3 separate regions of the Homo sapiens genome follow, and all the other regions are linked to region 2. Evidence: fine-mapped QTL for protein levels in blood plasma. A gene starts in region 2. Each other region holds a variant in brackets. All regions are shown on one strand. Distances are from middle to middle.

The links. PIP is the posterior inclusion probability: the model's chance that the variant is causal. Protein levels are from antibody-based Olink assays in UK Biobank. Linkage for the fine-mapping came from a reference panel and not from the study's own genotypes, which makes the PIPs less certain.
Region 1: its variant is fine-mapped to the plasma level of the GRIK2 protein (UK Biobank, PIP above 0.99).
Region 3: its variant is fine-mapped to the plasma level of the GRIK2 protein (UK Biobank, PIP above 0.99).

Annotation. Positions count from the first base shown.
Region 1 is chr6:100,501,074-100,503,834 of GRCh38, reverse strand. No RefSeq gene overlaps it. Among named protein-coding and RNA genes, the nearest start is that of SIM1, 38 kb to the right of the region's middle. The variant T/CTTTTTT (reference allele first, on the strand shown) is at 1,284.
Region 2 is chr6:101,392,182-101,394,942 of GRCh38, reverse strand. It overlaps GRIK2 (glutamate ionotropic receptor kainate type subunit 2), which reads right to left and starts at 1,235. Exons shown (of 17, transcript NM_021956.5): 1 at 1,106-1,235.
Region 3 is chr6:100,880,386-100,883,146 of GRCh38, reverse strand. ASCC3 (activating signal cointegrator 1 complex subunit 3) reads left to right here and starts at 1,818. Exons shown (of 42, transcript NM_006828.4): 1 at 1,818-2,086. LOC107984041 (a long non-coding RNA gene) reads right to left here and starts at 1,690. Exons shown (of 8, transcript XR_007059692.1): 1 at 1,493-1,690. RefSeq lists an enhancer at 1,855-1,974. The variant G/A (reference allele first, on the strand shown) is at 1,281.

The DNA of each region.
Region 1 (2,761 bases), 890 kb after region 2:
CATGATGGACTATAGATCAAACCATGTTGGTTGAGCAGAATCACAACTTCTAATTAAAAGTTCTTTGAATCCCCCAAATCCACATTTCTTTACTTGTTACTTTTATTACTTGGGTGTCCTTGATGTTACTGGAACTTGCTAAGCCATGTAGGTGCCACTCCTGACCATTGAAAACAAGTACAGTCACTTTGAATGATCATACTTTTTGGCTCCAAGTTATATTGGAAGGAGTTTGTAATGATTTGAGGATTGCAGAGCTGATCTGAGATGAATTTCATGTGTGAGCTTCCATCCCAAGTGTGGCTGGCTCTTGGCCTCAGAGAACTGTACTTTCCAGGATGTAGAGGATTGTTCTAGCTAGTTTTGGAACTACCTGCAGCTGATAATTCATTTTTCCAAAAGGCCTAGAAGATGCCAAATGTTATTCCTTTGAGGGATGAATGGAGATCCTGAAATAAATAATTTCTGAGAATTAGACAGCTAATGACACTGAATAATACTGACTACCATAAAAAACAAAACTGCTTTTCTTCTGATGACACTAACTGTAGTCAGAAGGTTCTAAAAATGTTCTTTATGTCAACACACCAGGATTGGTGCATATGCTCCAAAGTTCACCTAAAAGTTTATTCACCTAAAATGACTCAATTTATTTGAATGTGTAAGTTCTAGGTTTGCAATTGCTTTTTAGTCAAATTGCATGCATGGGTTATTACTTATTTTTAAAATGTCACCAGAGTGGACCACTAAAAAAAAAAAAAGTACATTTAAATTACAGAAGAGAAAGTTTGGATTGAAGTGAGAGAAAAAAAAATACAAAATCTTCACAACACAATTTTAAAATAATGAACAAGCAAGCTACCGATGGAGATCTTCATTTGTCAAACATAATCTGCCTCAACATAGCTGTCTCTTTCCACTGGGCTCCTGGACACACTCGAAGCCCATCCTTACATACTTCTTTAAATGTCTGAAACTGATATTGCATGGAAGTGTCTAATAGTAATTTTAACAAAGAATGCCAGTAACTTCAAATGAGCTTTCAAATAAGCTCAAGTACATACAAAAGTGGCCTAATTACAGGCTGTCTACCAGGAATGTGCATCTCTACCTGTGTTACTTTAGGTGGTAATTATTATCAGAAAACATGATATTTGCCTATTAGAACACAATTTCACCAGGGATCTGGAAGGAATAAGTTTTGTTTTTAAGCTAGGTTTGCTGTATCAAGAAAAGCAGTTTAGGGTTTTGGCTTTTTTCTTTTTCTTTTTCTTTTTCTTTTT[T/CTTTTTT]TTTTTCCAGACAGAGTCTTGCTCTGTTTGCCCAGGCTGGAATAGCGCAGTGGTGCAGTCACAGTTAACTGCAGACTCAACCTCCCACTCAACCAATCCTCCCACCTCAGACTCCTGAGTAGCTGGGACAACAGGCACATGCCACCATGCCTGGCTAGTTTTTTGCTTTTTAATGAGGTTCTGAAATGCTACCTCACTATGTGCTATATTTGGTGATCTGGCCACATTTTGTAAGATTTAGGACAATGTATCTGATCAACTTTCTTCTGTTCCCATTTCCTCACCTCCAAAAACAGAGGTAACACCTGCCCAGGCTTCTCTCAGAGTCATTGGCTCCGTCATGATAAGAAGGGCAGTGAACGTCATTGCTGTACACACAGTACCTAGAACATAGCAGGTGTTCAATCAATTTTGTTGAATGAATCATTTATGTGAAAATGCTTAGAAAATGATAAAGAACTATAAAGAGTAACTATAATGTAAATGGAAGTCTAAGATGATCAATAGCAAACAAACTTATCCTCAGGATTAATTTTATGTGTCAACTGGGTGGTAAGCTAAGAGCCCCACCTCACCATCTCTACTCCCACCCCAAACAGAAAAATTGTTGTGCCCAGAGAGAGATTTGTGCTCCATTCCTTTTTTGCTACAGGATTCCCACCTGTCAAAATGCAAAATACGTGTACACTTTCAGGTGTAGCTTGGCACTCACATGGGAATGTGAATTACTTCTGAGAGCACTTTTTGGGAACATGTATTGATGGGACAGTAAAGGGCACCTAGGATATCCAGACAGTGCAGGTGAAGTCTGACTGCTTTATTACTTCCCAGCTGGGTTCTGAGGACAAACTTTAGAATCTTGTTAAGGGCCATTTTTTATATCCAAATAATCAGAAATGGATCACTCTGGAAGCAGAACAACTTTTGAGAGCAAGAGTGGAGGCAACTCACACTCTCACTGAGTGTTTTGATCATAAGGTATGTTGCACCCAGAGTGAAATAAAAATTTTAAGCAAATTCTGTAATGTTCTTTAAAAGCATTAATGTACTTTCCTTAATATTGCAAGCAATACCCATTCCGTCCAATCTTCCTGGCAGTCGTGTTACTCTCATGCTTGTATAAGCATGAAAATCAATTTAAATATATTCAGTAAAAACCTAAACCCTTCCCTTTTAAAAGCAAATATCTGATTTTTCTTTCAGAAGCAACCATTTTTACGGTATTTATTCAACTTCTGAAGCCTAATTCTATCCAAAAAATAAGGAGAAAAAATATGCTACTGGCTTCTAATATAGGGCTGTTGTTACCAGAAACAGAATAATACAGACATCTTAGTAAAACCTCAATCTTATTTCCTGAGCCTTTAGAAAAATGCATTCCTCTAAAAACACATTACCCTACAAGTGGCCTTTGGAGAAACTGAAATATTGAAGAAATCCTTGGATTGCAGCAAAGAACATTCTCCGTGGACAATTCT
Region 2 (2,761 bases):
TTTCAGCCTGTGTGATTTTCAATGGGTTTAAATAGGAGAAAACAAACAGATAAGACTTCCAAACATTGCTCAATTCTCTATCACCTTGCTCTTGTGCATTTCAATTTTTTGTTGTTTGTTTGACTCAAAAGTTTTTAAGGCCACTGGAAGTTGATAGGCTGCCTTGGTGGTTACAGGAATAGACTCTATAAAGTTAGAAAGTAATGAACTAAGACAAATCAAGATTGAAATACAATTGCATTTATTTCAGTAACTAAACTGACTAATTAAGACTCAAATGAACCAATCATCTCTCGTGAAATGAAAATAATCATCAATCCATAAGATAATTTCTGATGACAGAATACTTACAGTATGGAGATGAATAAACGATAGAAGATAATCTGTGCATTACCAAAAGGCTACTAATAGTAAGTTTTCTAATATTCCCCATTGCCTAAATTGGAAATTATTCTCTAAGGAGCCTCAGCTCGGTCGTGTTGTTTGGTAAAGAAACTCTATCTCCTTAAAGGTAAAAATATCAGAGGATGTGGTTCGTTAAAAGTTCTTGAGGTTTATGATCCACCCTGGTAACACTGCCCACTCCTTACCCTAATGGGACGCCCTCCAAGTTTTTTCAGAAGCTCTTAATACGGGTGCCGGTTAAAATAAATATACTTCCTCAGCGCAGAACTAAGGAGTAGGGTTAATGGAAGGATGGGTGGGCAGAAGGAGGGATGGGGAGTTCGTCAGACCCGCCGGCAGCCACACAGCTTCTTGCCATCTGTCTCATTCTCTTCGCCTCGCGTGAGTCCCCGTAGCTGAGGCCACTTCCTGACACGTCCACTTCTTAAATCATTTTATGTGGAGAACATAGGCGACTGCAGCCAACAGAGCCACTTGCATGCTTGACGGGAATTGGCTGAGATAAGCCCGACAAAGACTCGCAGTGAATCCGTCCAGCGGGCGCCCCGAGCGCACGGACGTCCGCAGCGCTACTGTTCGCCTTCTTCCTTCTCTCCAGGTGGAAAATGCCCCTCGCCCACCCGCAGTCCCTCCCGTCCTCTTGAAAACAAACACCTCGTGAAGGAGCCCGGAGTGCAGCCCACAGCCGGGGAGTCCTTACCTGGAGCTAGGGGTGAGGTGGGCGGGGAGGGGGTGGGGTGGTCCTCGGGGAGGAGCAGCCGGAGGAGGTCGGGCGGAAAAGTCCCCAGCTACCAGACCGACCAGCGCAGCCGCCGGCGCCGAGCGCGAGTGACGGCAGCGGCGAAGACGGTGACCGAGGAGCAGCAGCGGCGGCGGCGGCGGCAGAGACAGACACGCCTCCTGGCGGGGGTTCCTCGCCTCTTGCTTTAAAGGCGCCGCGCTCCTTTCCCCGTGGCCCCTGCACGCTCCTGGCCGCCGCGGCCACTCGGGGGCATCTCCCACCCCTGGACCACAGGAGCTAGAGCGAGAGAATTCCTGGTGTCCCTAGACTTGGATGTTACGAAGCCTCCGGCTGGACTTCGCTCCCTTAGCGCACACCCGCCTCCTGGGATGGGGAGACTAAGGCCAAGATGCTCTGTCAGGGAGTGAGTGATGCATGCAAAGCGCCGAGGAATTTGCCTAGCCTTGGGTGGTGACAACACATATAAGGAGCCCAAACACATTTGCTTCTGGGTGATGGCTTTTATGCCTCTCCGAAACCATAGCAACGAAACTTCTCCACTGCCAGGGCTTGGAGGGCTGCTGGTAGTCTCCAAAGTGGACCTCTTAGTCCAACTACGGTCATTTCCCTGAGGTTCGCAAAAAAAGATCTTGATCTGCGCACCCTCCCACCCCGACCTCCAGCGCATAGAGCAAATGCGCTCTGGTAGCGCTGCTGCGGGTATTCCCTCAGATGCTGGGAGTCACAGTGCCCTGCTCCCTGCCACCATTATTGAGAACAGATGCTTGGAAATTGACTTTTCCTGAGTGTTAGGAGGTCGGGCGGGCTGTCTCTGTGTATGTATGGCGCCTTAAATAGCAGACTCCCCTCTCCCCACCAAACTCCCGCCCAGGCCCCGGAACTCTCAACCTAAACACATTTCAGAAAGAAGTTGGATTCGAGATCTAGTGGGCGCCGAACCTGAGGTCGCAGACTCCAAGATTGGAGACAGGAGTCTGGGAAGCAGCCCTGGTTTGGCGGCCACTGGTCCAAGTTCTCGGGAGGACTCTTTTAAAGGCCAGAGATGGGGAGGGGCAACTGAGTCCCAGAGTCTTCCCGCAGCTTGGCTTCCAGGGAGGGGCTGGCGGCGGTGAGCGCACCAGGCTCTCCCTGCTTCACTGTGGAAACGATTAGCTTTTGCAAACAATCCCTGAGTTCCGCTCCTCTGGGTCGGAAAAGTCAACATCTATTCAAAACCGTTGCTATTTTATCCTCAGCCCTACAATATTAACTGGAGCTGAGTTTAGCAGTTTCCCCCAGAGGAAGTTGGCCAGCTCAGATTCGCGAGGAGATTTAAGTGAGGCTAAGCGGGAACAGGCCAGGCGCACTGGGCTCAAGAGACCATTTCAAACGGGCTGCATAAAGAAGGGGCCAGGGGGGATTCCACGGCTCTGCAGTCCCCTAGCAGTTCCAGTCCCTGGTGGTTCTCCACTATCTATCTAATTCCGAGGTCCGGGAATTAGAGAGGCTCTGAGTCCCCAGGGACCCGTTGTCTGAGCTGGAGACCAGAACTTGCCCTTTTGCTTCCTCCTTCACTGCAGCCCTAGTAAAGTTAAGCCCTCGCCGGACCCTGGCGCAGCAGGGCCATGTTCCACA
Region 3 (2,761 bases), 510 kb after region 2:
TGTTCCAAAGTTGGTTGACACATATACAGAAGCCATGGATACAGAGGGCTAACTGAATTTCCTTCCAGGCCAGGACTATGTAATACAAATATGATGCAAGCCACCTATGTAATTAAAAATTTTCTAGAAGTCACATAAAAAGTAAAAATAAAGTTGAAATTAATTTTAACATATTTTATTTGATCCATTATATATTATTTCAACATGTAATCGACATAAGAATTACAATATTTTACATTTGTTTTCTAAGTCTTTGAAATCTGGTGTACATTTTGGACTCATTGCATGTCTCAGTTTGGACAAGCCACATTTCAAATGTCAAGAGACGTATTTAACTGGTGGCTACCCCAATGGATAGGGCAGTTCTAGGTAGTCTATTTTCAGTTCCTCTCTTCTCCCTTAAGCCTCTGGAACTGTGATGGGAATAATCTGTCATGTGAATTCCTAGCACTTATCAGCACCTCTCATTATCACTTGGCCTCCTTGCATTATTTATTTTTGTGATGCATTTGTCTTGTCTCATGAACTAACTTGTAAACTCTATGAAGTCCAGGACCAAAGACACATGTAATCTCAAGACTGGAAATATCTTTAACAAAACCATCAACTAATTATTCTGTTGATGTGTGGCTCCCCTGTACCAAGTCCCTATTAAGTGAGCTTCAGAATCTCCTTGAAGCAAAATTCTGTGGTTGAGGTATTCACACATGCTAAGGTAGGCAATTCTTTGGGTCGTGCTACAAGGGCATCTTCTTTTCAGGATCTTAAATCTGTTCCCTGAAGTTTGCATCACATGAAACAAATCAACTTCACATGATAGGTCATTTCATATTTGGAGAGAGTCCAGTAGTTTTCTCTCTTCTAGGTGAGTCCTGGAAGGTTTAATCAATCCTTCTTCACTTGCCCTGTTTTTGAGTTCTCGTCATCATTTTGCTCTTCCCTGATATAATGCCAGCTTGATTAAAGTCTTCAAATGCTGAACACAGCACTTCAGAGGTGGTCTGACCAGTAAAGACAATAACTGGATCACTATTGGCTGCCTCTACAAAACAGTTCTACCAGGCATCGGGGCACATTACCTTGAGGAAGCGGGAATGGCAGAAGAGAGCCACAACAAACATATTAACTCATACTATCTTTGCATTGTTGGCTTTTAGTCTAGAACTCTTTGCAGATAAACCACACAATTCTTTAGGTTAGTTTTTCTTCGTATCTTCCTATCTTTTCAATCGAGTTAGGGAATCTTTGGGCTTTCTGTTTTTGGAGGAGGTCTTCTGACC[G/A]AAGAGCCGACTTGCAGAGATCACTTTGAGGGAACTAAGCTGAGAATCCAGAAAGCTTATGGAAAACAGGCCTTGACACCAGAGAACCATGTATACTCTCTAGCAGCCAGAGGGCTTTGGCTGAAAACGACGATAGCAACTACCTGTTTCTTCATTCAAATTGCTCTCCTTTCCTTTACCTTTAATAGGAATTATTTCCTCCACATATTTACCTTACAGAGAAGGGCGGGGAGAAGACGCGGCAGACTGAAGTAAATGCAGGGAAAAAACTCACAGGTAGAGAGGTAGAGACGGCAGGCCTGGCCCGTTGCGGGCAGCCAGGGTAAAGTGGAGCGTCCCGCTCCCGCCCTGGGGCGCATCCTCGCCGCCGCCGGGACCTTCCGCCTCTGCTCCTCCGAACCCAGCGGACTAGAGGCTGGAGGCGGGAGGCGGAGCGGCGCGCGCACGCGGGCGGGGCAGAGGGCCCGGAGTCGACGAGTCGACGTGCCGACGTTGGCGCTGCAGCGGGGCGGTGACGTGTAGGCCGGCGCCAGCTCCACTCTGTCCCTCCTCGCCGGGTCTGTGCGTCTTTGCGTCTGTCTGTCTGACTGATGGTCCTCACACGCGGTTCCCTGTGACTGGGCGCGACCCCGGCAAGCGCGGCTTGGAGGGCGGACGGGGCGCGGCGATACAGCTGCCCGCTCGCATCTTTGGCCCTGCGCTCAGCTCCTCACCCGGCGTGGGAAGTTAAAGTAAAACCGAAAGGGAAGAAGGCGCGGTGGCAGGAGCTGACAGAGTGATGGGAAACGCGTGAGCCAGGCCGAGAGGTGAGGAGGTGGAGGTGGAGGTGGGAGGACGAGAAGGGTCGCCGCGGCCAGGGGAGCTGGCTGGAGGCGGGGACGGCGAGGCGGGCTACGCGACCCGCCAGAGATTCTCTTCCTGCCTCCGGGGCAAGTCCCGACCTGTCATCCTTTTCAGTGGCATGAGGTCGAGTCCGGGGTCTCGCAACAATACCGCCCATTCCTAGAGTTTGTAGGTGGGGTTGGGGATAGAAAACTTAACCTAAGCTACATATTGTCCAAGTGTTAAGCCACAACGTGACCAGATGAGGTTTTTCTGTCCCATGCATGGGTAATTTGTTTTCTTTTTTTCTGTTACAAAGCCTTGATAACTTCGTTTTCTTCACGTAGATTTGGGGAAAGAAATCTTCCTCATATTTTTCCCCCAACACACTGGAAAGTAAATAGGTAGCTGACCGTGATGGATTGTGGGTGAATTTCGCAATCAAGGAGCCTATAATGTCATTTTGAAATAAATAAATGTGTATGTGGGTGCTAGGGAGGTTTTGTGAGTACTGGGCAGTCATTTCAAATAGGTTTCTTATAAATTAACTTACTCATGGAATGCAGTGTGCTAATGGTATTTGCTATTCTTTGGTTTAAAAGAAGCATAATTCTAGGGGCTGGTAAAAGTTTGATGTGTTGTCACTTGTGCATTCAAAC